Regions from separate parts of the Homo sapiens genome. Here regions 1 and 2 are each linked to region 3. Evidence: fine-mapped expression QTL. A gene starts in region 3. Each other region holds a variant in brackets. All regions are shown on one strand. Distances are between the middles of the regions. Region 1 overlaps PDCL2 (phosducin like 2). Region 2 overlaps SRD5A3 (steroid 5 alpha-reductase 3). Region 3 holds the start of SRD5A3-AS1 (SRD5A3 antisense RNA 1).

The links. PIP is the estimated chance that this variant, and not a neighbour inherited with it, causes the effect. A credible set is the group of variants that fine-mapping cannot tell apart.
Region 1: its variant is the best candidate, but not a certain one, in a credible set for the expression of SRD5A3-AS1 in spinal cord (GTEx, PIP 0.60).
Region 2: its variant is the best candidate, but not a certain one, in a credible set for the expression of SRD5A3-AS1 in esophagus muscle (GTEx, PIP 0.84).

Annotation. Positions count from the first base shown.
Region 1 is chr4:55,561,004-55,571,116 of GRCh38, forward strand. It overlaps PDCL2 (phosducin like 2), which reads right to left. Exons shown (of 6, transcript NM_152401.3): 4 at 8,715-8,858; 5 at 1,401-1,609. Among named protein-coding and RNA genes, the nearest start is that of CLOCK, 19 kb to the left of the region's middle. The variant C/T (reference allele first, on the strand shown) is at 5,272.
Region 2 is chr4:55,356,659-55,366,771 of GRCh38, forward strand. SRD5A3 (steroid 5 alpha-reductase 3) reads left to right here. Exons shown (of 5, transcript NM_024592.5): 2 at 2,688-2,830; 3 at 7,416-7,613. It overlaps SRD5A3-AS1 (SRD5A3 antisense RNA 1), which reads right to left. Exons shown (of 4, transcript NR_037969.1): 4 at 9,943-10,113. Among named protein-coding and RNA genes, the nearest start is that of SRD5A3, 15 kb to the left of the region's middle. RefSeq lists enhancers at 7,918-8,606, 8,607-9,294. The variant G/A (reference allele first, on the strand shown) is at 4,542.
Region 3 is chr4:55,381,725-55,391,837 of GRCh38, forward strand. It overlaps SRD5A3-AS1 (SRD5A3 antisense RNA 1), which reads right to left and starts at 3,856. Exons shown (of 4, transcript NR_037969.1): 1 at 3,821-3,856. LINC02928 (long intergenic non-protein coding RNA 2928) reads left to right here. Exons shown (of 3, transcript XR_941060.4): 2 at 1,193-1,256; 3 at 4,619-6,548.

The sequences.
Region 1 (10,113 bases), 180 kb after region 3:
ATTATAGCATCCCAAACAGAGAAGACAATAATGATTTCATGAATGCTTACTATATTATTATTCTATGTATTCTTTTATGTACTCTTATGTTGTTAATTTTTTTAATTAAAAAGAAAAGGTCCAAGCTACAAAAAACAAGGTGGTGAAACAAGGAAAGGCCTTAGAAGATTAAAAGAAAAATGGGAAAATTCTGAAACAAAGTATCAGAGGTCTCGGTAAGGGCAAAAACAGCTTTGGGGGACTGACAGAGTCAAAGAATACCTATTGAAAACAACCAGCCAGGGGCAGAGGCTCACGTCCGTAATCCCATCACTTTTGGAGGCTGAGGCGGGCGGATCTCCTGAGATCAGGAGTTCAAGACCAGCCTGGCCAACAGGGCGAACCCCCATCTCTACTAAAAATTACAAAAATTAGCCAGGTGTGGTGGTGGCCACCTGTAATCCCAGCTACTCGGGAGGCTGAGGCAGGGAGAATTGCTTGAACCAGGGAGGCAGAGGTTGCAGTGAGCCAAGGTCATGCCACTGCACTCTAGCCTGAGTGACAGAGCAAGGTTCTGTCTCAAAAACAAACAAACAAACAAACAAAAAACAAAAACCGAAAACAGCCACTCATGATGACTTTAACACAATGGTGAGAGAAAATGATTTTTAGTTTTGTAAAATCGAGTTAAAGCAGTGCCAAAAAATGAATATATCAAAGAGATGACCTTAGGAAGTAAAAACAATTAAAGAAGATAAAAATAGAAAGTCTTGTGTTGTGTGCTAAGAAAAATAAAGTAATAGGAGGCATGGTCCATGCACCTTTTAGGAAGATAAAATTCAAAGGGAATTGATTCATCAACAAAATTAGATATCATGCTAATAAGTGAAAAGAAAGATGCATTGAGAATATACACTACAGAAATTCAGTAGAGAAGAAAAAGATTACGAATTGGTCCAATATTACATAATGCAGTAAATAAAAATTGAACAGACTCATGAAGGAATAAACTTTGGATTTGGATAATAGAGAAAGGTAGAATACATTAGGTACAAGCAGAGAATGTGTAAAAAAAGTGTGATGGCACAAATGAGTAATGTCTATTTGTGGGTTGTGGCTGAAGACCAGCCTAACAGGAACAGAAACTAGCAAGCACTGAGAAATATAGTTGGAGAGGTGGGTGGAGATTCTAAAGGAGAAGATTCTAAATTTTTAATTTACTTGAGACAGGGAACTATTAAGGATTTTAAGCAAGGGGGTGTTATTAGAGTATTACTATAGGAAAATTAATCTGGAGGCATATAAAAAGAGACTAGAAGCAAGGAAAAAACCTTGGTACTAAGGAAGTAAGCTTTCAGGATGCTTGTTAGTTTGCAGATGTTTTCACCTATCATTTTTATAAACAAAATTTGTAACATTACCTTCCAGCTTGAGATTTATCCCTCCACATTCTATAATTCCAATGAATTTGGCTTCTATCTGACCATTTTTATACACAAAAATTGTTGGTAAACAATTGTCATGGTAGTGTTGAATACAGCTATTCACGATGGCTTTAACAAATTTAGTTTCTGGAAACTTTCTTGCTAGAAGACTAAGATGCTGGTTAACCAACAAACACATTGGGATGCTAAAAAGAGAAACAGTACACACAATCTTTAATAAATGGGCTACTCATCTCAGTCTAATGAAATAAGTAAAATATCGCCATGGCAAAAATATATCTTAGATTAATATAAAAGCACATTATTATCATCCTCTATTGTTACCTTTAGCAATGAAGAACTGTATGTAGAGTCCTCTGGTTTTTATTGCAAGCACCATTATAACCCGGGAATGAAGCTAGCTACCATGGCAAGCTGATGCTTAACTTAGGGAAACTACATTCAACTGAGCATCAGTTTGGTTCAAGCAGGTACCCAGTTTGTAGAAAAAAAAAAAAAAAACAGGACACTTCTAGGAAATCCTTTGCAGTTCTGAGTTGAAACAAAAGGATCCCAACCCTTGCTGCCATCATGAGCTTCTTTCCATGTAATGAGTTTACCATATCCAGAACTGTCTTTCCTGACTCCAACAAACTTCTTCCAGTCTTTGGAATCCCACTCCATGCCACATCCTGGTGGCCCATTATCCAGAACTATTCCTTACCAGAAATTTAATATTGATTGGAAGTGTGACCACAACCTCAGCTCTTCCTGCTTTATCACTTAATTCTCATCACACTCCTTGATCGATTAGTCCCTTTTCTCCCAGTTTATCCAACTTTCAAGTGAATCCCTTCACCTCTACTTTATTCCACATTCCTTCCACCTCCCTTGGGATCTTTGTTGGTTATTCTGCTTCCCTCTTTTCCTGTTTTCTCATCTTTCCTTCTCCAAAGACTCTTTCTCCATTTTACATAAACATATTCAATTTGAGCCGGGTGCAGTGGCTCAAGCCTATAATCCCGGCACTTTGGGAGGCCAAGATAGACAGATCATTTGAGGTCAGGAGTTCGAGACCAGCCTGGCCAACATGGTGAAACCCTGTCTCTACTAAAAAATGCAAGGTTTTAGGGGCCAAGGGAAAACTTTGCCCTCCAAAGGAAGGTTCACTGAAAGATCAACTAACAAAAGGCAAATTAATTGGAGAAAAGGCACACAAGTTTATTAACATGTACATGAGAGAGGAAACACAAAGTGATTACCCAAACCCTCCAATGGGGGACAGAAGCTTATATGCCATCTTGAGGCTACAGAAAGAATGGAGGCTCTGGCATGGCCAAAAACATGTTATTGGGGTAAATCAGGTTACAGTGACAAGACAGGCTATGGGAGGCAGAGAAGAGGAGGCCTGGATAGCAAAAGTGGTGTTGTTATGTAGATGAAACCTTACAGGTAGCAGCCCTCAAAGAGAATAGATGGTAAATGTTTCTTTTAGACCTTTCAAGGCATCAGATTCTCAGTTAACTTTGGTCCTAAATCAGACAAGGGAAGGCCCTCAGAGAAGGCCTGACTGCATGAATGCAGATTTTCTCTACAGTTGCAAATCCCCTCCACAAAAGACAGCTTTACGGGGTTACTTCAGTTTTGCTGGCTCTCTGAACACCCATCTCAAAATATGTCAAGAAAGTATATCTTAGGGTAAAATGTTTTGATTTCCTTCAAGGTGAAATGAGTCCACTAATATCTAATTCAGAGAAATTTTATAATTTTCATTAGAAATTTTGTCAGAATGAAAGCTCAGTCAGTGGTACAACAGATATTTGTGGGGTGGGTCAGTAGTGTGAATGGCAGAAGTCAGGTAGGTATTGGTGGTGGCAGTGAAAAGTATAGAATTAAGAGAATATTGCATAACAGATTGTGATGCAGGGAGAAAGGGTTGCCCGAAGACAGTTCTGACAGCAAGTAGTAGGGGAACAAATTTGGTGTTGGGGCTCAGGGCCAGAATTTTAACCCCAGAAGAGCTGTAAAATATGAGGCAGACCTCTAACATCACAAAACAAGTTAAGAGACTATTTATGGTATTCAAGCTTCAAAATATACACTTGGGTATAAGAATAATATAAAAGCCCCAAATTAGAATTGGGGTACAGGCATAGATTAAATAGAATTGGGGTACAGGGTAAGATTAAATAAAACCAGAAACAAGACTGACTTAAAGCTAAATCATTGGGCTTACTGGCCCAGGTTGAGTTAGATCCCTCTAAGGCACCTTAAGGAGGCTAAGCCTTCATTCCGATAAAAAGTGGGTCTAATCCTATCAATTTGATGGCAAAGAGCCATTGAAATTATAGAATTTAGGAGCCTAATCAAAAAACAAACACCACCCTTTTATAAAATTGATAGAAAGTAGCTAAAAATGAAACCACCTTTGTAAAAATTTTAACAGTGAGAGAATTATGACAGTGAAAGAGATTTGATCTAACCAACTCCCATCTTCCCTTTAACCTCCAAACTGCCCCGAATCATTCCTGGACTTGGGCCAAGCTAACTCTGGGAGAATTTCAGTTTACAGTTTAAATGATAATAGCTTTTCCCCAAAACTAAAACCACCTTTGTAAAGCTAAGGGAAGACTAGGTTAGGAGGATGAGAGGAGCCTGAACTCTGCTATGATACACACTTAAACAATTACCAGCCATTATTCTGGAAGTCACAAGATTTGCAACTTCCTCAATTACTCCTGCAGGTAACAACACTATTGTAGAACCTAAGATTGGTCTTTTTTATATATCTTTTAAGGTTTTTGCATTTCTGATGACTGATGCCTCTACCTGGACCCACCAAGCAGTACTGTGGCCCCATACAGAAGCAGACTTAGCACACATGAGGACTGTATTAGTCCGTTCTCATGCTGCTAATAAAGACATACCCAAGGCTGGGTAATTATAAAGGAAAGAGGTTTAACTGACTCACAGTTCAGTATGGCTGGGGAGGCCTCAAGAAACTTACAATCATGGCAGAAGGGGAAGCAAACACATTCTTCTTCACATGTGGCAGCAATGAGAAGTGCTGAGCAAAAGGGGAAAAGCCCCTTATAAAACCGTCAGATCTCATGAGAACTCACTCATTATCACAAGAACAGCATGAGGGTAACTGCCCCCATGATTAAATTACCTCCCGCCATGTCCCTCCCACGACAAATGGGGGTTATGGGAAATACAGTTCAAGATGAGATTTAGTGAGGACACAGCCAAACCATATCAAGGATCATTTTCTACATCCCTATGATTGCATTCCCAACCAATCAGCAGTACCCATTCTGTGGTCCTTGAAAAACCTCAGCCTCCAAATTTTGGGGGAGGCTGATTTGAGTAATAATAAAACTCTAGTTTCCTGTTCAACTGGCTCTGCATGAATTAAACTCTTTATTGCAATTCCCCTGTCTTGATAAATTGACTCTATATGGGCAGCAGGCAAAATGAACCCATTGTGTGGTTACAAAAACATAAATTAACAGCTGTCCTTCAACTTTACAATATTAAAAAGCTGTAAGTAAATCCATTTTTCTGTTTTTTTTTTTTTTTTTTTTTTTTTGAGATGGAGTCCTGCTCTGTTGCCCAGGCTAGAGTACAGTGATGTGATCTCAGCTCACTGCAGAGCTGCCTCCCAGGTTCAAGCGATTCTCCTGCCTCAGCCTCCCAAGTAACTGGGATTATAGGGACACATCACCATGCCCGGCTAATTTTTTTGTACTTTTAGTAGAGACAGGGTTTTGCCATGTTGGCCAGGCTGGTCTCAAACTCCCGACCTCAGGTGATCCGCCCGCCTCGGCCTCTCAAAATGCTGGGATTACAGGCATGAGCCACCGAG[C/T]CTGGCCAGTAAATCCACTGTTAAAAACTAAAGTTTTCTAAAGAATATTTGTAACACAATTATTTTCTGTTATATTTTATAAATTTAGATTACTACAGATTAATTTTCAAAATATATGTTTTATACCAACACAGGAATGTATTTTCCTTTTTCTCTTTTTTTTTTTTTTTTGATTTGGAGTCTTGCTCTGTCACCCAGGCTGGAGTGCAATGATCTTGGCTCACTGGAACCTCCGCCTCCCGGGTTCAAGCCATTCCCCTGCTTTAGCCTCCCACATTGCTGGGACTACAGGCATGCGCCACCAAGCCTGGCTAATTTTTTTTTTGTATTTTTAGTAGAGATGGGGTTTCACCATGCTGGCCAGGCTGGTCTTGAACTCCTGACCTCAAGTGATCCGCCTGCCTCGGCCTCCCAAAGTGCTGGGATTACAGGCAATGAGCCACCGCACCCAGCCCCAGGAATGTATTTTCTTAATGTCCAGAAAACTAATATGTAACTACTTTAGAGTGGCCCAGAAAAACCTTCTGAGAAGGTTTACTTAAAGTATTATGAAACCACATCCTTCTTTTTGAGTCTATCAAAGCATACAACAATTTGAAGCAGACTAAATCACATTCAACCTCTTTATGAATTTTTAAAAAATTATTTCTAAAAACTAGTAATTTATCTGGAAGTAACCATTAAGCTAGATAATTTTACTTAGAAGCCATATCTACTCTGCTAACCACACAGGATCAGAAAAAACATTCAGTAAACCACTTCAGTATATAATATTTACCACAAACAGATCCTTGTTTTATAAATGTCCGTGTTTCTCATCCTTATTTGTGAGATCTACAAGCAGCATTTACAAACTGGTTAACCAAATAAATAGTATAGGTAATATGGAAGTGTGATTTCAGGAAATAACTTTTCTCTGAAGAATGCAAGTCCTTTTAAATGTTTACCCCCACGGAGTCATTAAAATGAGACAGCAGGCCAGGCACAGTGGTTCACGCCTGTAATCTCAATACTCTGGGAGGCTGAGGCAGGAGGATCACTTGAAGCCAGGAGTTTGAGACCGGTCTGGGCGACATAACAATACCCCATTTCTACAAAAAAATTTTAAAACCTGGCCAGATGTGGTGGTGCAGACCTGTAGTCCAAGCTACTTGGAGGACTGAGGCAGGAGGATCATTGCTTGAGCCCAAGCATTCAAAGCTGCATTGAGCTACAATTGTCACTGTACTCCAGCTTGGGAAACACAGTGAGACCCTGTATCAAAAATAAAAAGAGAGAATCACAACCTACTCCCTCCTTGACCTATGTATTCATCTCTTGAAACTGCTTGCTATTGCTTGCAAGTAGCTATGAATCAACCCAATAATACTTCAGACACTGTAACTTTTATAGCTTAACAATATATTGCCAGTCACTAATCAATGTTATTTCCTTAAGCCAAAGAGAATTCCTGACAAACAACTTTGTATCAGTCCACTCCCTGTCCTCCTTTTATGTCTTCACAAACCTGCTCATAACAAAGGCTAAAGGGAGATCATATCCAAAGGTACTTGGGTTTAGTCTTCTGGGCAGCTATCCTCACTTTGGCTCAAGTAAACTCTTTAAATTATATTTTGTGCCCCAGCCTCTTCCTTTTAGGTCAACACATTCTTTTAAGGACTTTAAAGCTACTTAAAAATTAATCTACCAAGAGTTTTAGTTATAATAAAATAACTTTTATGGGGCATTTTCTTTTATGGGGCATGTTGTCCTGTCAAAATTTGACTCAGGAACTGCGAAGTATAGCCATACAGGCTATACAGGGTTATATACAGGGCTATAATTTGCATAAATTGCTCTGTATATAATTTCCCTGAGGACCTAAAGATAAAAACATTTATTATTCAGAGATTGAGATAAGGACAGTGAAGGTTGCTGTCATGGCCTCTGTTCCTAGAATGGTTTATAGCCCTGAGGCAGAGGGGTAGGGACCTAAAGCTAGAAGGACTGAACGAGAGAAACATTCAAAAGTCTACTTTCCCCATTTACTAGGCAAGACTGGTGAGGCCTAGGGACAGTGGGTTATACTTAGTACAACCAGGTATTTTTAAATTAACTGTCTTGGAGGAATGGGGGAGTGCAGGGGTGCAGGGAAATTGTTCTATTAGAAGAGACTTCAGAGAGCTGATATATCTAAATGTGCTGCATAATTCTTGATTGACTCCTTGTCCAAAACATATGTATTCATAAAAGATATTTTTAAGTCAGTCGGGAAAATCTGAGTAAGGACGACGTATTAGATGGTATTAGGAATTACTGTTAATTTTGTTAGGTGAGAAAATGGTATTGTGGTTATGTAGAAGAACGTTCTTGAAGGGATTCATAGTATACCACACCAAAATAAGCCACTCTGGCATAAGGATTATTTTGAGCTAAAGACAACTGAAAAGAAACAGACACAAGAAAAATATTCTCCACCCAGTAACATCCTCACTCCTGTCTCTACCAGGAAGGGCAGGACACTCTTAATCACTGGATAAAGCTCTAGATTCTTATCATTCCAGTGAGGCACCAGAGGAATCTATATAACAAACCTTGCTAAAACAACCTTTAATTTTGATTAAATTAAACACTCTAAATATCGACCATATAGATTCAACAAGTTGAATACATAGTTTCACCCATGTATTTACCATCCCACAGTTTGTCACTCCTAGAAGCTCAAAGACCCTTTCTGTTGTCTTATCAATTCTCTACAAATTTGCTGTTCTTTTGTTAAGAATCTATATAAGCCCAAGTTCTAACCACCCCTTTGAGTTACTTATCACTGAGCTCTCCTATGTGTATGTGTAATGCACTTGTAAATAGACTTCTGTTTGTTTTTCTCTTGTTAACCTGTCTTTTGTCAGTCCAACTTGCAGGGCCCCAGCCAATAAACCTAAAATGGGTAGAGGAAATATAATTTTTTTTTCTTTCCAACACCTTTATGTTTTGAAGGTGCATGCTGAAGTACACAGGAATAAATCATCATGCTATGTTCAGTTTACTTTCAGTTCACTTTCTACAAATGCAAATATACACACACACAGAAACAGTTATATAAATATGGCAGAAGGTTACTTGTTGAATCTGTATGGTCGATATTTAGAGTGTTCATTTTCTCATTCCTTCCACTTCTCTGTTTTTGAGATATTCTATAATAAAAAGTTTTTAACAAAACTACCAAAGAGTGCTTATTTTTCTAAAAAGTGTGACAAGTTCCTGAAATTAGAAATGAAAAGATCTTAAAATACCTAATTTAATCCCTGAAGCCAATGACTATCAAAACCTCTATGGATGTATATGTGTGCAATATATAGTTGCTTTTTCTTGAGTACTGTTATATACTTTGTAAAACCTTAAAACCAAAAATATGTCTTTTAAAATAGTAGTATATTAACATTTTGAAATATTATGGTAATTACCTTGATCTGTATAGATGAATTATAACCCACACATCTTCTTCTGCATTTGTGACTTCATTCACATACTGATTTCCAGAAATTTCTCTTAATTCTCCAAATTTTTGTTTTTTCTTAAGAGCTTTCCATTCCTGTAACCGCTTCTTTCTAATTAAAACATGAAATTAAATTACATAAGAATACTGTCATATTCTTAAGGTCATTCTCATATGTAATAACAATTTAGGGCAATGAATATAATGCCTATCCATATCAAACACTTTAAATGATGGGATAACCATGAATGATCTTATAAAACCAATTTCTCTTTTTATATGCAAATTTGTGTTATCATGGTTATTGGAAAGTGTAAGAAGTTTGCTATTGACTTTTAAATTTGTTTGTATTTAAGACTAGGTTTAAATCATAGCTATAGAGAGTTTATCTAGATGTTGTGCCAACAAATTCTCATGTACAAGTTGAATACTTCATTAAGGAGAATAATGATATCCAACATTAACCAAGTGCTTGCTATGTTACCAGGCACTATTTTAAATACATAACATTAATGAACTTAATCCTTGTAAAAATGTTACAAAGCCAGTACTATTATTATCCCCATTTAAATGTTAGTAACAGTCATGCTAAGATGATCTTCACTTCGAAGACTTTGTGGATATTTGTAATTACTTGTTATAAATATAGATTTATTATAGACAGAGAGGTAGTAGAGGAGAGTGATTATGAGCTTGGATTCTAAGCTCAGACTACACTGGGTTTAAATGCCAGTTCCAGTACTTGTTAATAGCATAAACTTGGGCAAGTTGTTTAATCTCTCTACACTTCAGTTTCCCTAACTGTACATGGGAATAATACTAATAGCTACTCACAAGGGATTACTGGGAAAAAAATGAAATAATACATGTAAATTTCTTAGCAGGGTGCCTGACACACTGTGAGCATTCAATAAATGTTGCTACCTATTTATCTATCCATAGAGAACCTTGAAACTGTTTAAAAAACCAACTCTCTCAACATTTACATAATTTGACAATTTCGCTGTTGAACGCCTGGATTCATGAAGCAAATCTAAATGGTTTCTGACTGTCTGCAAGTTTATTAACATTTAATGATTCTATACCTCTAAGTTTGCTGGAAGTATTTACTCCTTTTCTTTCTCTGTGTATTAACCATATTTTCTTATTTTATGTATTCTTGATGCTCTGGCATCTGACACATTGCTGATTCTGTAGAGTCTGCCCCTCCCAGGGCTAGTGAACTCCATGAAATAGCAAACACTGTTCAAACGCAAATCAATCTAGGGCCCATACCCTCAATCACTTCATTTATCAGACTGAGCCATGATCCCCTGCCCTAATCATTCCAGGGCCAGGTACCAAACAACTAGAGATAGCCTCTACAG
Region 2 (10,113 bases), 25 kb before region 3:
TAGAGATGGGGCCTCATTATGTTGCTCAGGCTAGAGGGATTTTTTATTTATTTATTTATTTATTTATTTGAGATGGAGTCTCGCTCTGTTGCCCAGGCTGGAGTGCAATGGCGCGATCTTGGCTCACTGCAACCTCCGCCTCCTGGGTAGCCTAGAGGGATTTTTAAAACATAAATTACTACCTCACGTCACTCATCTGCCCAAATGGCTCCCCATTATAAAAGCTAGTGGCCTTACAAGGCTTCATGTCCTCTCCCCACTCCTGCCTCACCTTCTACCCTCGCCCTTGGCCATGCCAATGTACAGATGTCTTTTAATGTTCCTTGAACACCCCTAGTATACACCCACCTCATTGCCTTTGCAGTTGTTATTTCTTCTGCCTAGAAAGTTCTTCCCCTAGAAATCCACAGGGATGACTCATTCTAGCCAAATGTTACTTCCAGAGAAGCCACCCTTGACCATCCATCCAGAACAGCCTCCCCTCTGCACCCTCTGTCCCCTGACCCAGCATTATGCTAGATGTCTGCAGGTTTAGTTGTTGACCGTCTGACTCCCCACTCTAAGGTAAACTCCCATTAAGGCGGAGACCTAGTCTGTTTACTCCCTGCTGAGTCCCCAGCTTCTAGAATATTGCCCAACACATTCGAAGTGCTCAGTAAATATTTGTGAAAAAATTAAGTACGTAAAGTGGCTGGTCCAGAAATTGTCCTTCAGAAGCTATCCCTCCTGCCTTTTCCTGGGAGCCTGCAGAACAGCATGTTCTTGACCTTCCACTGTGCTCCACGAGGCTCAGACCATAACCTGGGGTCAGTTGTGGGAAGTGTGTCTTAAGGAAGACCCTGTGGTATAACCAAAGATCAGTAGCCACAGGTGGCGATTGGCCTTGATGCATGAACTTCTGTGAAAAGTAGGCTCTTGAAGCCTGGAGAAGATCCCAATTGGGAATCACAGGATGGCTCTCTTCAAATAGTTTAAGAGATGTTGTGTGGAATTAAAATTCTTGTTCTGTGTGGCCAGAGATGGCAAATCCAGTGATAGAATTTTATTTATTTATTTATTTGTTAAGACACAGGGTCTTGCTCTATTGCCCAGGCTGGAGTTGCAGAGGCAGAATCATAGCTCACTATAACCTCAAACTCCTGGCCTCAAGGGATCCTCTCACCTTGGCCTCCCAAAGCCCTGGGATTACAGGCATGCATCACCATGCCTGGCCAGTGATAGAATTTGCTAACAGTAATTGGCAGAGTGGAGTGGGTTGCCATGGAATGATCAGGTTGGATCAGAGTTTATCAGACTGAGTTTGTAGGCATGATCTCAGGGGCTGTGCATTCTCTTACAAGCACATTCTGGATCATCTGGAGGAGCCCCTGCGATTATGTTTAATCCTCTTTTGGCTCTAGGTTGTCTTTTATTGTCACAGACTAATGAGAAAAAGAAAAGAAGGAGTGGGATTTAATATATGCACGATGCATTGAAGACCAGGGAAAGCCAGATGACCGCCAGGCACTCAATAGAGTCAGAAAGGTTTCAGACTGAATAGAAAAAAATAGAAAAGTATACATAAACAGACCTCAAAAGAACCTATGAGGGGCTGGACATGGTGGCTCACACCTGTAATCTCAGCACTTTGGGAAGCCAAGGTGGGAGGGATCTCTTGAGCCCAGGAGTTTGAGACCAGCCTGGGCAGCATAGGGAGATCACATCTCTATAAAAAGTTTAAGAATTAGCCAGGCATGGTGGACTACTACAAGCCTGTGGTCCCAGCTACTTGGAAAGCTGCGGTGCGAGGATCACTTGAGCCTGGGAGGTCAATGTTGCAGTGAGTGGTGATCACAACACTGCACTCCAGCCTGGACAACACAGCAAGACCCTGTCTCAAAAAAAAAAAAAAAAAAAAAAGAAGAAGAAGAACCTGCTAGGCCCTAGGCCCTTGTGCCATATTAGGTGATTTTTTTTGTTTCAGCAAATCAACATCATCTTTTGCATTAAATTAACATCGCTAATTTCAATTGCATTGGTTTTGTGGTCCTATTTGTATTTAGTTTGTAGATGTGTTGATTGCAAAATAGGCCCTGTAGTTGTCTGAGAATTATAACCATAAGGAGTTAATACCTAGTTTTATGATTGTAGTATTAGTCATGTTATAATAAAAGTAATTTAGGTCAACCCAATTTGGAAAAACACTGAGTCATGCCTGAAGATCTTTTACTTCCTCTAGCCCCAAGTGTCTGCGATTATGCAAATCATGTGTAACAGTTGTGTGGCTATTACTGCAATATTGTTTGGGATATAGAAATCAAAATCTTTCACAGATTTAGCTTGTTTTAGCACAGTCTAGGTTCTCTTTGCAAGGGCCTGCAGCCTCCGTTTTGGGAACTTGAGTCCAATTCTGTTACCCAGCAATCAGAGAGATTGCTAACTAAACTTTATTCTAAGTTTAACACAGTTGGTTGTGTTCTTGTTAACCTCAGAGAGGCCTCTTTTTCCTGAAAGTTAACTGGTCCCGTTATTTGAAAGGAAATTTTAAGAACCTGAACACCTATAGGATTCAGATTCTATTAAAAAGCAAAGGTATACTTTGGGAATGGAGGGGTGGGGAAAGACAGAGAAACTAAAAATAATCTTCCCGTATAAGAGCTTGAAGTGGATCTACCCTAATTATTGCCTCGCTTGTTTTCCTTTTGCAGATATTTTTCCCACTTTTATATCATCTCAGTGCTGTGGAATGGCTTCCTGCTTTGGTGCCTTACTCAATCTCTGTTCCTGGGAGCACCTTTTCCAAGCTGGCTTCATGGTTTGCTCAGAATTCTCGGGGCGGCACAGTTCCAGGGTAAGGACTCCCTGGGCTTATGACAACGCTGCATCCCGTTTCTGTTGTTCCTGTCTGCAAGGGAGCAGTTTTTGGCATTTTGTCTCCTCTCTCGGCACCTCCTCAGAAGGGCCTGGGAAGTGGAGGATGAGGGCAAAAAAGAGCTTTGCACGGTTCATTGCCGGATGGCCAAAAGGATGTCCCTAAGCCCTTCCCTGAGAAGGAGACAGAGCCAAGAGTTAGCGCTCCTGACTTCCCAGCAAGTGCTGTGTTGTGTGCAGAACTGGCTGCCCTCCCTCTGGTATTTTTAGTACTGTTGATAAATTTATGAAGAAGTCTTTACACAAAAGGGGGAAAGCTTTTAGGATCTGTCAGGTTTGTCTGGAAACATTTATCATTTATACTGTTCCAACCAAACTCATGACTTAGAACTCCAGAAATGTGATTTAAAAATTACTTTTTCTGTCGGGTGCGGTGGCTCACGCCTGTAATCCCAGCACTTTGGGAGGCCAAGGCGGGCAGATCACAAGGTCAGGAGATCGAGACCATCCTGGCTAACACGGTGAAACCCTGTCTCTACTAAAAATACAAAAAAAAGTTAGCTGGGCATGGTGGCGGGCACCTGTAGCCCCAGCTACTCGGGAGGCTGAGGCAGGAGAATGGCATGAACCCGAGAGGCGGAGCTTGCAGTGAGCTGAGATCGGGCCACTGCACTCCAGCCTGGGCAACAGAGCGAGACTGTGTTTCAAAAAAAAAAAAAATTACTTTTTAATTCATACCTGTAATCCCAGCACTTTGGGAGGCCAAGGCAGGCAGATCACTTGAGATCAGGAGTTCAAGACCAGCCTGGCCAATGTGGTGAAACCCCAACTCTACTAAAAATACAAAAATAGCTGGGTGTGGTGGCAGGCGCTTGTAATCCCAGCTACTCGGGAGGCTGAGGCAGGAGAATCGCTTGAACCTGGGAGGCGGAGGTTGCCATGAGCTAAGATTGAGCTACTGCACTCCACGCCTGGGCAACAGAGGGAGACTTTGTCTCAAAAAAATAAATAAATAAATGAATAAAATAAATAAAAATTACTTTTTGATAAACATGGAAAAAAAGTTATGCTGTGAGGCTTTGGTAGTATAATAAAATTGACTAAACAGTTGTTGAACAGACGATTACAAAATAGCCTTTAAGTTTGCCATCCTCAGCATCAGGATGAAGAATATGGAACGTTTTTTTTTTTTTTTCTGAGATGGAGTTTCGCTCTTATTGCCCGGGCTGGAGTGCAATGGTGCAATCTTGGCTCACTGCAACCTCTGCCTCCCAGGTTCAAGCGATTCTCCTGCCTCAGCCTCCCAAGTAGCTGGGATTACAGCCATGTGCCACCACGCCCAGCTAATTTTGTATTTTTGGTAGAGAGATGGTGTTTCTCCATGTTGGTCAGGCTGGTCTCGAATTCCTGACCTCAGGTGATCCACCCGCATTGGCCTCCCAAAGCGCTGGGATTACAGGTGTGAGCCACCGCGCCCGGCCAGAACAGTTTTTAAAATAAAGAATTGAAGGTGAAAACTATGAAATGTCCTCAATTAAGGTCAGGCAGAGTGTGAGGGGCAGAATTAGAAACAAATTGTTCTAGTCTCATCTCTGTCCTTTGTTCCAGTGGCCAAACCACCTAGAAACAATCCTTTTCTGTATAACCAGATAAACTGGTTGCAAAAGATGACAATCAGAAGAGCAAACCCC[G/A]GCCGGGTGTGGTGGTTCATGCCTCTCATCCCAGCACTTCAGGAGGCTGAGGTGAGCAGATCACTTGAGGTCAAGAATTCAAGACCACCTTGGCCAACATGGTGAAATCCCGTTTTTACTAAAAATACAAAACTTAGCTGGGTGTGCTGGCACATGCCTGTAACCCCAGCTACTCGGTAGGCTGAGGAGAGAGAATTGCTTGAACCCAAGAGGCAGAGGTTGCAGTGAGCCAAGATTGTAACGTTGCACTCTAGCCTAAGAGGACAGAGCAAGACTCCGTCTCAAAAAAAAAAAAAAAAAAAAGAGCAAACCCTGCCGGGAACAGTGGGCAGTGACTCATACCTATAACCCCAGCACTTTGGGAGGCTGAAGCAGGTGGATCACTTGAGGTCAGGAGTTCAAGACCAGCCTGGCCAACATGGTGAAACCCCCGTCTCTACTAAAAATACAAAAAATTAGCGGGACGTGGTGGCGCGTGCCTGTAATCCCACTTACTCAGGAGGCTGAGGCAGGAGAATGGCTTGAACCCAGGAAGCAAAGGTTGCAGTAAGCTGAGATCATGCCACTGCACTCCAGCCTGTGCCACAGAGTGAGACTCCATCTAAAAAAAAAGAGCAAACCCGTGGACATCCTCTTTGGAAGGGTAGGCTACATCAGCGGATCTCACTCCACTCGTTAAAACTTCATCTCTTCGTTTGTTTACTGTGAGACTGACTGGGGTGTTTTGGTATTTGGAGGGTTGGTTGTGAGGATATGAGGAATTCTATTTGTTTGCTTTAACTTGTTCCTAAGGAGTTAAAACTAAGTTTTAGTTCATTTAAAATACAAAAACAGTCAAAGCTAATCTGTGCTGATAGGGGTTGTTCCCCATGGGAAGTTTGGGGGAGGGGTCGTGCCTACACTAGGGGGTGCTGTTCGTGTTCTGTTTCTTCTTTTTTTTTTTTTTGAGATGGAGCCTTGCTCTGTTGCCCAGGCTGGAGTGCAGTGGCCTGATCTCAGCTCACCACAACCTACCCCTCCCGGGTTCAAGCGATTCTCCTGCCTCAGCCTCCTGAGTAGCTGGGACTACAGGCATGCGCCACCATGCCCGGCTAATTTTTGTATTTTTAGTAGAGACAGGGTTTCACTCTGTTGGCCAGGCTGGTCTTGAACTCCTGACCTTGTGATCCGCCTGCCTCAGCCTCTCAAAGTGCTGGGATTACAGGCATGAGCCACCGCATCCAGCCTGTTTCTTTTGTTTGTTTCATTTTTTTCTTTCTTTTTCTTTTTTTAAGAGAGAGGGTCTCACTCTGTTGTACAGGCTGGAGTGCCGTGGCATGATCATAGCTCACTGCAGCCTTTAACTCCTGGGCTCGAGCAGTCCTCCCTCCTCCACCTCTTGAGTAGTTGGGACTACAGGTGCACGCCACTATGCCCAGCTAATTTTTTTTTTAATGTTTTTAGAGATGGGGTACCTGCTGTGTTGCCCAGGCTGGTCTCAAACTCCTGGTCTCAAGCGATCCTCCAACCTCAGCTTCCTAAAGTGTTCTGTTTCTGGATCTGGGTGCTGTTACATGGGTGGGATTGGTTGGCTTAATTTGTAAAAGTTAATTAAGTTGCATCTTTATGGTGTGCATGCGTGTGTGTGTGTTTGTGTGTGAGACTTTTTTTTTTTTTTTTTTAATGGAGACAGAGTCTTGCTCTATCTCCCAGGCTGATTGCAGTGGCCCAATCTTGGCTCACTGCAACCTCCACCTCCCAGGTTCAAGCAGTTCTACTACCTCAGCCTGCCAAGTAGCTGGTTCTACAGGCGCACACCACCATGCCTGGCTAATTTTTTGTATTTTTAGTAGAGACAGGGTTTCACCATGTTGCCCAGGCTGGTCTCGAACTCCTGAGCTCAGGCAATCCACCCGCCTCCAACTCCCAAAGTGGTAGGATTACAGGCATGAGCCATCGCCCCCGGCCGTGACTCATTTCTTTTTTAAGTGACTGGGCGTGGTATCTCACACCTAAAATCCCAGCACTTTGGGAGGCTGAGGCTGGAGGATGGCTTGAGGCCCGGAGTTCGAGACCAGCCTGGGCAACAAAAAAAATTTTTTTTTAATTAGTCAGGTGTGGTGGCACATGACTATAGTTCTAGCCACTCAGGAAGCTGAGACAGAGGATCACTTGAGCTCAGGAGTTCAAAGCTGCAGTGAGGCCTGACTGTGCCACTGCACTCTAGCCTGGGTGACAGAGCAAGACCCTGTCTCAAAAATAAAGAAGTTGACACATAAAATTAACCAAAAAATAAAAAACAAAAAAGAAAAAAAGAGAAACTAAGTGTGTGTTTTTTTAAAGCCAGCTTTTCTTCAGATTTTTTGGTGGGCAGGTCGTGAAAGACAGGTGAGGAAGTAGATCTTGGGCTCAGCATGCCTCTAAAAGTATAATTTCTTTTTTTTAATGTGGAAAGAAATGCATAACTCTGTTTCTGTTCCTGTCCCCCTCTCTGCCTCTGTGATGCCTGAGATACTGGGGATCCCACAGCTGGGGCCACTCAGAGGCTACCAGGAACGCTTCCAGTTTGCATCTGGCTGTTAGTGCCAGGACCAGAAACCCACAGACCTCTTCACAGACCTCCTGACCGTGATGTCCCTGAAGCCTGGAAGGCTGTCACACAATGAAGCAGAATTGAGTGATGGGTGTTTGTGAACCCAGTGAACTGTGTAACACAGTGAACTGTGTAATTTGAGTGAAGTCAAATTCCTTGACTTCATTTGGCCCATTTCTTCCTTACTACCAAAAAGAAAGATGTTAGATGGGATTTAATACTTTGCTTAACAGTACAGAAAAACAAAACTTTGGATTAATCCCAGAAGAGAAATGCTGACCCTGTTGCCTTCTGAATTGTAGGAGGGGAGCTGGCACTGTCTGCATTCTTAGTGCTAGTATTTCTGTGGCTGCACAGCTTACGAAGACTCTTCGAGTGCCTCTACGTCAGTGTCTTCTCCAATGTCATGATTCACGTCGTGCAGTACTGTTTTGGACTTGTCTATTATGTCCTTGTTGGCCTAACTGTGCTGAGCCAAGTGCCAATGGATGGCAGGAATGGTGAGTGGATCCAGCCCTGCCAGGAGCTCCCCACCCCAGGGTGTATGATGCGCTCTCGGGGCTTGTGCTGTGCTAAGCATTATGAGACATGCAGAAGTAAGAGACAGGCCCAATGCATTTTGCATTTCAGGAGATGAGACTCAAGTCGATTTTAAAAGGCCGGGCGTGGTCGCTTACACCTGTAATCCCACCACTTTGGGAGGCTGAGGCAGGTGGATCACTTGAGGCCAGGAGTTCGAGACCAGCCTGGCCAACATGGTGAAACTCTGTCTCTACTAAAAATTAAAAAAAAAAATTAGCCAGGCGTGGTGGCACACGCCTGTAGTCCCAGCTACTGGGGAGGCTGAGGCAGGAGAATTGCTTGAAACCAGAAGGTGGAGGTTGCAGTGAGCCGAGATCGCGCTACTGCACTCCAGCCTGGGCAACAGAGCGAGACTCCATCTCAAAAAAAAAGAAAAGAAAATGAGGGAAGGGAGAGTGCTTGCATGGAGTTGGGATTTGCAGAGGGGGTGGGGAGCCATTTTGTTGCCGCTTAGTTCCTGTGATTGTTCCCATCACAATAGAGCTTTTCTTCAAGTGACGCTGCCTGAGAGGAGAGGACAAAGAGTACTGTGGTAGTGAAAATTGTGTTTTAGTCTCTAAGCTCTCACTAGCCAGGAAGAGGGGAGCCAAACCATGACCTTGTTTACGAGAAGGAAATGAAATGGATTTTTTGTTTTATGGGGGGAGGAGGGGACATTACCTAACACATATGACTACCATTTTTGTAAAAACAATGCATGATTATAAAGAATTCAAGTCGCTTGGGGTGATGGGAATGAGTTTATAGTGCTGAGGTTAACCTGACCTTGCAGCCTTAGTATCTGTCAGTCTAGACCCCGTAGGTCTGTAATGACCATTGTCTCTAAACCCAGGGCTCCATGTTTTCAGCTGCCCTGTCCATCCTTGTAAACTCAGGCTGAGGTCTAGCGATTTCCAACAATCTGTGAGTGAGCTTCCTCCTCAGGTTAGATTTTGGTATGAGTGCCCCGTGAAAGTCGTCTCTCTGTTGCTGTAGCTCAACCTAAGGCCTCTGACTAGAGGAGTGATTTTAAAGGATTTATTGACGATCTTTCTCAATTCATGAATTATTGATTGGCTCCAGCCACTTAGCTAGCATCTCTCTGATTCCTCTGAACTTATTCCTCCCAGGCATGTCTGTGGTGGCATTCTGCCAGCCAGTACCATGGAAGGGGCTGTCATTCCTGGTGGGCAGTGCTGGTTCTCCCCCTAAAGGAACTTTGCAGAGCGCTTGGTGACTGCTAGCTTTTAGCGTGTTCTTGTTTGTTGGCGTTACCTGCCTCTCCCGGAGTTTCCTCTACTGGCTGCGTCTCAACTTCTGCCTTCCCTCCTGCGTAGATAGTCAAGGAAGAGGAGCCCACAAAAATAGCTTTCTAAGCACTCCTTTCTGAAGCTGTTTTCTGTTTCACCTCCTTGTCCTTCAAGGGTCATCTGGGATCATTTAGGACAATATGGGGAAAGTTGGTTTCAGTAATTCATTGAGAGAAAACACATTGGGGCATTTGCCAACCAAAGGGCGTGATAGAAATAACATGGGCTCCAGAGTCTTGATGGGCCTGCATCTGGCTCATTGAGCTTCTCTGAGCCTCACAGCCTTCATTAGTAATTATTGACACATACTGATTTCACAGGGTTCTTCTTAAAGTGAAAAGAAGACTATCTGTAAACTAGGATGTAAGCTCTATAAGGACTGGGATCTTGCCTGACTTATTCCCTGCTTTATCCTTTGTGCCTTCAGCAGGGCCAGGCTTAGGAGGCACTCCTTAAGTAACTAATGAATAAACAAATAATTAAATACTGAGTAGAACTGAGGAAATGTGAGCCTTCCACCTGCCTCCCTTTTCCTGCATTATAATTCTGGCGTTACCCTTAACAAATCCTTTTTCCTGTAGGTAAACTCTCTGCATTTAGCATAAGGGACTTAGTGATTTGAACTTCCAGACACTGTAACTTTTCATCCTGTTGACTTGCTCTTGAAGCCTGTCAGATTTAAAACTGTATTTTTAATATTTTGCTTATTTCATTTTTGTAGAGACAGGTTCTCGCTATGTTGGCAGGCTGGTCTCAAACCCCTGGCCTCAAGTGATCCTCCTGCCTTGGCCCCCGCAAAGTGCTGGGATTACAGGTGTGAGCCACTGTACCCAGCCTGTTTTGAACTTATAAAAATATAACCTAGTAGTTAAATGGCTAAACTTGTAAACACTAAAAGACTATAGTAGATTGATTATATAAAACAAGCTTTTAAAATAAACTGACACAGGTAGACCGGTGGATTTTCATCAGTCCTTTACTATCATTAACGGATTCCTGCTTCGAGGTGGCCATGTGGAATTGCATGATCCTTGGTTCTCTTACTTGAATCAGCTTTTTAGGGTTCCCCCTTGGCTCCAGAGCCTCAGGCTCTTGCCCATTATCAGTGGATACATTTGTTTCTTCAGTC
Region 3 (10,113 bases):
CTGGGCCCAGTTGCAGTGGTGATGGTGGCGGGCAGCAGGAGTAACAGTCAGGACAGCAATGGCTGCGGCTCCAAAGACAGGAAAGGGCTCTGCATATGGACATTGCCAGGACCACCAGTGGGAGACCAGCTCGCCTGTCCCTTGCCAGAGCTTAGCCCCGCATCATCTGCACAAATAGTAACTCTCCATCCTGAGTACTGGGACAGGAACTCATTCTGCTAACTTCTCAGTAAATTAGTACAACATGTATACAATAAAAGTGTATACATGAATATTGTCATAGCATAGCAGGGGGTTATTAGAATTCTTAAAGGATCTAAAATGTCTAGTTTTGAAAACTACTACAACATGGCAAAGCAAATAACCTCAGGCTTAGAAACAGAAATTAAGTTTAAAGATTGTCACATTCTACAGAAAAGAATGCTATTTTCCTAGGAAGTACAAACCAATTGTTTGGCAGAAAGATAATTAAACATGTTTTTTTTCTTATAATTGAAGAGTCAGTGACAGAATACATAAACAGGCCTTATGAATTATATACAAATTATGAAGCCACTTTCAGTTTCTTGTAAGACCTCCACAAGTTTCAGGAAATATTTCCTTATGTCTGCAGAAACATTAAAATATCATTGTGTAAATTTATACTTAAAATTAAATTCAGACTTTTACAGAAAACTGAGTTGTCTAAGGAGTTAAGTCCCTTTAGAAAAATTATTCCACAAGAACCAACAACTCTAGAAGTATTAAAATTTATATTTCAAAATAATTTATCAGAAATTTACCTTAGTGTTGTCACAGTTTATGAAACACTCTTAACAGCTGCATCAGCAGAAAGATCCTTTACGAAATGAAAAATTATCAAAATTTATTTGTGACTTTATATTTCCCAAGACTGGCTGGTGTTGCTTTCAGTCTTATCTATTGGTAAAGAAATTGTATGACATAAATTTCATATCTATTGAAAATGAAAGTGAAATGAAAAGAATAAATTTTGATGAATTTGCAGAAAAGTGAGCCAGAAAAATATAATAGGACATCACATTAATGAATGATTATTGTTTACTGTATTATATAAAATTATGACATCACAATTATTAGTTTAGCAATGTTTAAGTTCATGTAGTTACTCCAGTATCACTATTATCCCATTACATTAGTATCTTTAACTGTACTTTTTTCCTGTTTTTTACAGAGGAGGTCCCATATTTTCGTTTGGCACCAGGCTCAGCGAATTACATAGCCAGCAATGACCACAAGTAAGAGTGTTACAGATTTTTGTTATAAGCCATCATAGTAGACAATGCTTGCCTATGAATGCTTAAGGAGAGTAGAAAAAGAGCAAGAAATGCAAGAAAATGCATGTTCTTAATGTGTGCCATATAAAATCTATCAGGTAATAGGCATTTAATCTATGTTAAGAGTAAAGAAATATAGCCAGGCGCAGTGGCTCACACCTGTAATCCCAGCACTTTGGGAGGCCAAGGCAGGAGGATCACGAGGTCAGGAGTTCAAGACCAGCCTGACCAATATGATGAAACCCTGTCTCTACTAAAAATACAAAAATTACCTGGTCGTGGTGGCACACGCCTGTAGTCCCAGCTACTTGGGAAGCTGAGGCAGGAGAATCACTTGAACCTGGGAGGCAGAGGTTGCAGTGAGCCAGGATTGCACCACTGCACTCTACCCTGGGCGACAGAGAGAGACTCCGTCTCAAAAAAAAAAAAAGAAAGAAAGAAAAAAAGAGTAAATAATACTGTGGGCTATAGTGCAGAATTTGTCATAAGGAAAAATCTGTTTGCATTTAATCCAGGACTGATGTCACAAAGCAATTGGGGACAATGCCTTCAATTGATGCCATTCTCATTAAAATTAGGAGTTTTGGCTGGACACAGTGGCTCATGGCTGTAATCCCAGCATGTGGGGAGGCCAAGGCAGGAGGATTGCTTGAATCCAGGAGTTCAAGACCAGCCTTGGCAATGTAGTGAGACCCTCATCTCTACAAAAAACAGAAAAAAATTAGCTGGGTATGGTGGCACGTACCTATAGTCCCAGCTACTTGGGAGGCTGAGGTAGGAGGATAGCTTGAGCCCGGGAGGTCGAGGCTGATGTGAGCTGTAATCATGCTGCTGCACTCCAGCCTGGGCAACAAGAGGGGACTCTGTTTCAAAAATAATAATAACAATTTAAAAATTATGTGTTTTGCTGTCCAGAGCATAAGTTTGACAGGGATAAACATCCATTCAAATGGGAGTCAAATTCAGGTATCTTATAAATAGCAAGCCTGTTAGATTGTCCTTCTATGAGCATTCTTTGTTTTCAAATATGGAGAACTATTTTTCTAAAGATCAGAGAAATGGCCACCACAATATGGGCCCACCTCATCTATTTTTGGTTTCTTCAAAAATGATGACTCCAATGAACTTTGCAGTAAAAACAAAATGACAATAAAGATGACTTACTTGTGAAAAATAAACAGCAGGGAAAAGCACTGAAGCCAGATAAACCAAATCTGCTTCCCATAAAGTGAAAAAAGATCCACTGAATTATAATTGTTTTTATTTTCATATGATGATTGTTGCATAAAACTAATTTGTTGCTGAATTAAGAAACATAAGACACATATTTACCCTAAATAATTTTAGTTCATCTCCTGGCTTTTAGTGAAATTATCGATTTCTAGGTGATATAATTTGTGTGCCGGCTGGGCAAAGTGGCTCACACCCGTAATCCTAACACTTTGGGAGGTGAAGGCAGGAAGATCACTTGAACCCAGGAGTTCAACACCAGCCTGGGCAATAGGGTGAGACTGTGTCTCTACAAGGAATTTAAAAATTAGCGGGGCATGGTGGTGCACGTGTGTAGTCTCAGCTACTCGGGAGGCTGAGGCAGGAGGATCACTTGACCCTGGGAGTGAGCTGTGATCACGCCACTGCCCTCCAGCCTGCATGAAAGTGTGTCAATGCTTTTTTTTCCTCCTTCTTTTTATTTTTATTTTTTCTTCACTCTGTCACCTAGGCTGGAGGGCAGTGGTGCAATTATACCTCGCTGCAGCCTCTATCTCCTGGGCTTAGGTGATCTTCCTGCCTCAGCCTCCCGAGTAGCAGAGACTACAGGCACATGCCACCATACTCAGCTATTTTTTTTTTAATATTTTGTGGAGATGGAATTTCACCATGTTGCCCAGGCTGATCTCAAATTCCTGAGCTCAAGCAATCTGCCCACCTCAGCCTCCCAAAGTGCCGGGATTGCAGGCATGAGCCACTGTGCCTGGCCCAATGCTTTTAATGGGCCCATTTTAGCCACATTTCTAGTACTTATATTATTCAAATAGACTCAGAAAAGCTGTAAGCCTGTACAGAATTACAGTGTAAGACATCATAAACAATGTTTTAAAAATTAGAAAAACCAATTGCAATACATGTAAGAAAGAAAAAATAAATATTCACAATATATAAACCGCTCTTACAAATCAGTGAAAACACAACTTTACAGCATGACAACTTTGAAAGAGGAACACCAGATAAGAACTGTCTGGGGCGAGCATAGAAGAGTCTCATTCCTCTGTCTGAGTGGTACTGGGTGAGTGGAATGGTTGGTGATTATAGGCTGACAAAGCCCTAGGCTTTTTCTTAGCCCCAGCTCCCTGCCTTCTCCCCTCACTGCCCCCTCCTGTGGGGGCACTACCTAGCAACTGAGGTTTGGGTTTTACAGTGAAAATAATTTTATGAGTCAGAAAGGAGTGAGAAAAGTGTGTTATCAGATAGCATTCCACAGTGGTAAAAGCAAAACAAACAAAAAACAGGACTATTTCTCTACATACTGTCTGGGACTTTGGGACCTTCACTGCAGACCTCTTGTGGCAGTGTATGTGTGATTCCAGTCGTATGGTGGGTATGTGGTTAGGGTATTATTACATCGTAGGTCTATAAAGGGCCAAGCCCCTTGCTCCGACATGCAAAGAAAGGATTGCAAACTGGCAGGCTGCAGGTCATACCGTGCTCATAGACAGCTACTGTTTTGTATGCACAGTTTTTAAAATTGTGAATTAGTGTAATGGTTAATTATATGTGTCAACTTGGTTAGGCTACGGGGCTCAGTTTTTTGTTACAACACTAATAACAATGTGGCTGTGAAGATATTTTGCAGATATAGTTAATATCTACAACCAGTTGACTTTAAGTAAAGGAGTCTACTTTCAATAATGTGGGTAGGCCTCATCTAATTAGTTAAAAGCCTTAAGAGCAAAATCGGAGATTTCCTGGAGAAGGACTTCTGCCCCAGGATTGTAACATAAAAATCTGGCTTGAGTTTCCAGCCTGCTGGTGTTTTCTAAGATTTCAGACTTGTTGTATGCCTCCTACTGGTTCTGTTTCTCTGGAGAACCCTGACTGATATAGTTACTATGACACAGACTATTAATTGCTGACCCCAAGAGCCTTTCTCCCTTTATTCCCTATAGTAAGTGCCTCTGAAATAGAGACTACATTTCCCAGCTTCCCTTGCAATTAGCTGTCACCATGCAGCTAAGTTCTAGCCAATAAGATGTAAGCAGATGTGGTTTGTGGCAGCTCCCTTGAAACATACCTGATGCATACCCTGTGTCTCCTTGTTTTTCCAGCCAGTCCTCCATCCTTCTGCTGGGAACTTGGATGCTAGAGCTCTTGCAGTCACACTGGGCCATGAAGATAAAGGTCACCCCCTAGGAATGATAGAGCAGAAAGCTGGAAGGAACCTGGGTCCCTGATCTCTGTGGAGCCACTGAACTGCCTCTAATGAAGGAAAACATTTCTCTCATTTATGCTGCATGTTCTTTTCGATTTTATGTTATATTTAGTGGAGTATAATCCTAATTTGATACAATTGCCAACTTTTAAAAATCAGGAAATTTCACACAAATATTCAGCTCTCTGGCTTTTCTCTTGAAAATTTGGTACATCTGACAAAACATGAAGTCATGCTTCCCATTGCAGCAACTGACCTGGGCAGGATAATGGATGCCTGCTTCAGACAGGGATGGAGACCTCACCAATTTTTTTTCCTTCATTTTAATTGGGAAGTGGGGCAAGATGGAAAAATTGTGGATGCCAACTTTGTAACTTTGTCTTTCTCCCTGCATCATTTTTAGCAAGAACATTTCGACACTGGTGTAGTCCACAAGGGAAGATACTGAGAGAGGAGAAAGGAAGAAACCTTTCAGGCATCAGTTAGGGTGGGTCCTTGGTTAAATTCTTTCAAACAAAAGAACAGCCTGAAAAATCAAGCTGCAGGCACAGATAAGGGGATCTGCACAGGTGGCCTTGACTAAGACATTCCCACAGCCACACAGATATGAAAGCCTACCCAGATGACTTGCCCAGATACTTCTGCAGTGGAAAATTCCATCCCCTGACACATGCGCAGTAAGGGGAAAAAAGCAATATGGAATAAAACTTAAGCTAAGGGCCCACATGCACACTAGAAGGATGAGGTGGAGCTACCAGAAATTCATGCCTTATGCAAATGAGATGCCCAGCCCTCACCGGTTCTTATAAAAGCCTTTGCAGTCACCTGTAAAAGCAGCAACCCTCCTCCAGGTCCCCTCTCCACTGTGGAGAGCTTTCTTCTTTTGCTTATTAAACTTTCGCTGCAACTTCATCCTTTGCATCCACGCTCCTTAATTTTCTTGGTCATGAGACGAAGAACTCCAGGTGATACCTCACCTGCTACATTATGGAGAGACTGCTACATTATGGTGCACTGGTGAAAATATAACATTTCTGATGGTGGTGGAAGCAGAGGCCATCCTTTGCTGTTTCATGCCCAATTCTGTAGGCCTGCCTCAGAGAGAAGGGGAGCACAGGTCTCAGCATCCACAGACTTTTCATGGCGGTGAAGCTCTACTATCAACACTTGGAAAGAGGGAATCAGAGGGTCTTCTACTCCATGGCTGCAACTTTTTCTCATTTTAAAGATCCTCCTCTAGTCTAATGGATTTATATTTCTCTGGCTGACGTAATTTTGACCCTACTTCTTGGTAATACCCGAGCCTTAATTTGATGAAAGAGTATCACTCCCACCTAATTTCCAACCACCTCTCTGCCCTGAGTAGCTTCATCAAAATTCACACCTTGCTTGACAATGGAGAGAAGATTTCGCCTAACCTGGGGGAGGATGGAGGGGATGGAGGGTATAGCCTCAGTTGCTGTCAGACCTAAACCAGACTTGGCAATAATTGGGGGAGGTGGAGTGCCCTGGGTTGAAGGAGTCTTGGTGAGTTAAACACCCATTATTGTCTTTGGCTGTAAATGAACTCAAGGTCACTAGGAAGTGAGTGGAAAGTCAGATGAACTCTGTCTCTCAGAGGCAGGCCAAGGGCAAAGAAGGCACAGAAGCCACTTCAAAACTTTCAGGCCTTTTGGGAGGAAAGGGTGGGTATGGAATGAGGCTGACTTTCAAAGATGAAGCTGTGACAGATCAGAAATCTGTATTTTTGAGCCAGACTATGTCTGTGTCTAGGTTTGCCTTTGTCTTTTTGTTGTCAGAATTTCATTAAACTAATTATTCATTCATGTATGAGTGTCTTCTACAGCCAGGAACTCTTTAGACAAGATTCTGGCCCTGATGACACTTACGTTTTAGTTGCCAATACAGATAATAAATATAAGAAGTAAACAAAGGCCGGGCATGCTGGCTCACACCTGTAATCCCAGCACTTTAGGAGGCTGAGGAGGTCAGATCATTTGAGGTCAGGAGTTCAAGACCAGCCTGGCCAGTATGGTGAAATCCTGTCTTTACTAAAAATACAAAAAAAAAAAAAAAAAAAAAAGAGCTGGCATGATGGCACATGCCTGTAATCCCAGCTACTCGGGAGGCTGAGGCATGAGAATTGCTTGAACCCAGCAGGCAGAGGTTGCAGTAAGCTGAGATTGCACCATTGCACTCCAGCCTGGGTGACAGAATGCGACCCTGTCTCAAAAAACAAAAAACAGGCTGGGCACAGTGGCTCATGCCTGTAATCCCAGCACTTTGGGAGGCCGAGGTGGGCGGATCACTTGAGGCCAGGAGTTCAAGACCAGCCTGGCCAACATGGTGAAACCCCGTCTCTACTAAAAATACAAAAGTTAGCTGGGCACAGTGGTGCGTGCCTGTAATCCCAGCTACTCGGGAGGCTGAGGGAGGAGAACTGCTCAACTGGGACTTGGGAGGCAGAGGTTGCAGTGAGTGGAGATCACGACACTGCACTCCAGCCTGGGCTACAGAGTGAGACTCTGTCTTGAAAAACAAAACAAAACAAAAAAAGAAGTAAACAATTAGATAATCAGCCTGGGCTACAGAGTGAGACTGTCTTGAAAAACAAAACAAAACAAAAAAAGAAGTAAACAATTAGATAATCAAGATGGCCAGGTGTGGTGGCTCACACCTTTATCCCAGCACTTCAGGAGGCCAAGATGGGCAGATCACTTGAGGTCAAGAGTTTGAGACTGGCCTGGCCAACATGGCGAAACCCTGTCTCTATTAAAAATACAAAAATTAGCCAGGCGTGGTGGCATATGCCTGTAGTCCCAGCTACTCAGGAGGCTGAGGCAGGAGAATCGCTTGAACCCAGGAGGAAGAGGTTGCAGTGAGCCGAGATCGTACCACTGCACTCCAGCCTGGGCAACAGAGCAAGACTCTGTCTCAAAAAAAAAAAAAAAAAAGATAATTTCAGATAGTGATAAGTGCTATGAAAAAACTTTCAAAAATCCCCAAACTTAAAAAGAACCAACAATGAGACAGAGTGACAAGGGTGAATGGAAGAGTCTATTTTAGATGGGTGGTCTGGGAAGGCTGCTCTTGAGGAAGTGAACTTTAACCTAAATGACCAGAATAAGACCTAAAAAAAAAAAAAAAAAAAAAAAAGAGTGTTCTCAGAAGAGAAAACCAGAAGTATGAAGAGTCTGAGGTGGAAATAAGCTCTTGGTTGGGCATGGCACATGAGGTGGAGAAAGCCAAGAGACAAGGTCACACAGGGAGGCAGGGGTAGCTCACATTAAACTTTCTTTTCTTTTTTTTTTTTTTGTTTTGAGACAGAGTTTCACTCTTGACACCCAGGCTGGAATGCAATGGCGTAATCTTGGCTCACTGCAACCTCTGCCTCCTGGGTTCAAGCGATTCTCCTGCATCAGCCTCCCGAGTAACTGGGATTACAGGCGCCTGCCACCACACCCAGCTAATTTTTGTATTTTTAGTAGAGATGGGTTTTTGCCATGTTGGCCAGGCTGGTCTCGAACTCCTGAGCTCAGGTTATCCACCTGCCTCAGCCTCCCAAAGTGCTGGGATTACAGGTGTGAGCCAACGCACCCAGCCGAGCTCACATTAAACTTTCATTCAGAGATTGTTTTATCTTTATTCTCTGCCCATTTAGAAGTCATTACTTTTAAGCAGTGGAATGAAATTATTTTAATTTTGAAAGCTCATTCTGGCTGCTGGTTAGATTCTAGATTGGCAGAGGCAGGGAGACCAATTAGGAGCCCATTTAATTGTCCAGGTGAGAAATGACACCTGGTTTGTACAAGGTGGTAACAGTGGAGATAGAGGTGAACAGATTCAGATAGATTTTAAAATTAGAGACAAAATTTGCTGGTGGATTGGATGTGGGGTATGGGGAATCTAATGGAGTAATCTAATATGGTGGATGTTGGTTCCATTTACTAAGATGGAAAGCCTGAAGGAGGAACAGGTTTTTGGAGGGACATCAAAAGACCTGTTTTGCCCTTGCTCTGTTGGAAATGCCTGTGAAACATCCAGAAGGTGATGCAAGGAAAGAGTTGGATAAATGAACCTGGAGCATGTATTTAGCATTCTTTTTGGAATTTTCAGCCTGCTTGTGGAAACCTAGGAAAGCCCAAGAATGTAGGGAAACAGCTGCCCTCCCTTTCCCCTGCACCAGCAGAGTTCGCATACAAGGGTCCAGATCCCCATCATTTAAAGGGGTTTAGCAAGCTGATGGGTAGCAGTGTGCTTCGTTTCATGAGCTTTAAAGAGTTGAGAAGGTCAAGCAAGTTGCATATTGCTATTCGTCATTCACTTACATTTGCTGAGTGCTTTAATTTTTTTTTTTTTTTTTGAGACAGAGTCTTGCTCTGTTGCCCAGGCTGGAGTGCAGTGGTGTGATCTCAGTTCACTGCAACCTCCACCTCCCGGGTTCAAGCCATCTCCTGCCTCAGCCTCCCAAGTAGCAGGGACCACAGGCACACGGCACCACACCCAGCTAATTTTTGTATGTTCAGTAGAGATAGGGTTTCACCACATTGGTCAGGCTGGTCTCAAACTGCTGACCTCAGGTGATCCAGCTGCCTCGGCCTCCCAAAGTGCTGGGATTACAGGTGTGAGCCACCGTGCCCAGCCTGAGTGCTTTAAATTTGAATGATCTTCAGTTGACTCTTAGCGTGAAGTTTCTGGTTTTTGCTTCTCCTCTTTCCTCATATCTCCCTGCCCTGGCTTCTTTAACCAACCTTTGCTCTGTGGACTATTTAAGGAAAAAACTTTAATCGGCCCTTTGCTGATTATGGGGAAGGAGGGTTCTCCAGCAGAGCTCAGGAAATAGCTCACTTCTCCCTATTTCTGAAACATTGAGGATGAAAACAGAGAGTGACACAGACAGGAGGCCGGGTTGGAAGGAATAGTTTTAGGTCTGGTGGCCAGGTGGACTGGGCTAATACTGAACTCCAGAATCAAGAGCTGTTGAGTTGCAGGCTGCACTGGGCTAGGGGCAAGCCCTGGAGAGAACAGCAGATAATGTTTTTCCCTTAGGGGTCTGTCTCCCCAGAGGAAGAAGGCAATGAAGCTGAGCCCAATATGCTCAGTTACCCTGCTCAGATGGACTCTACATTATCAGAGGGGAATGACGAAGGCACTGAAAGAGGCCAGGAAATAGTCCTTTTCTTTTTCTTTTTTTTTTTTTTTTGAGACAGAGCATCTCTCTGTCGCCCAGGCAGGAGTGTAGTAGCGCGGTCTTGGCTCACTGCAACTTCCAATTCCCGGATTCAAGCGATTCTTCTGCCTCAGCCTCCCAAGTGGCTGGGACTACAGGCACACACTACTACGCCTGGCTAACTTTTGTATTTTTAGTAGAGACGAGGTTTCACTACATTG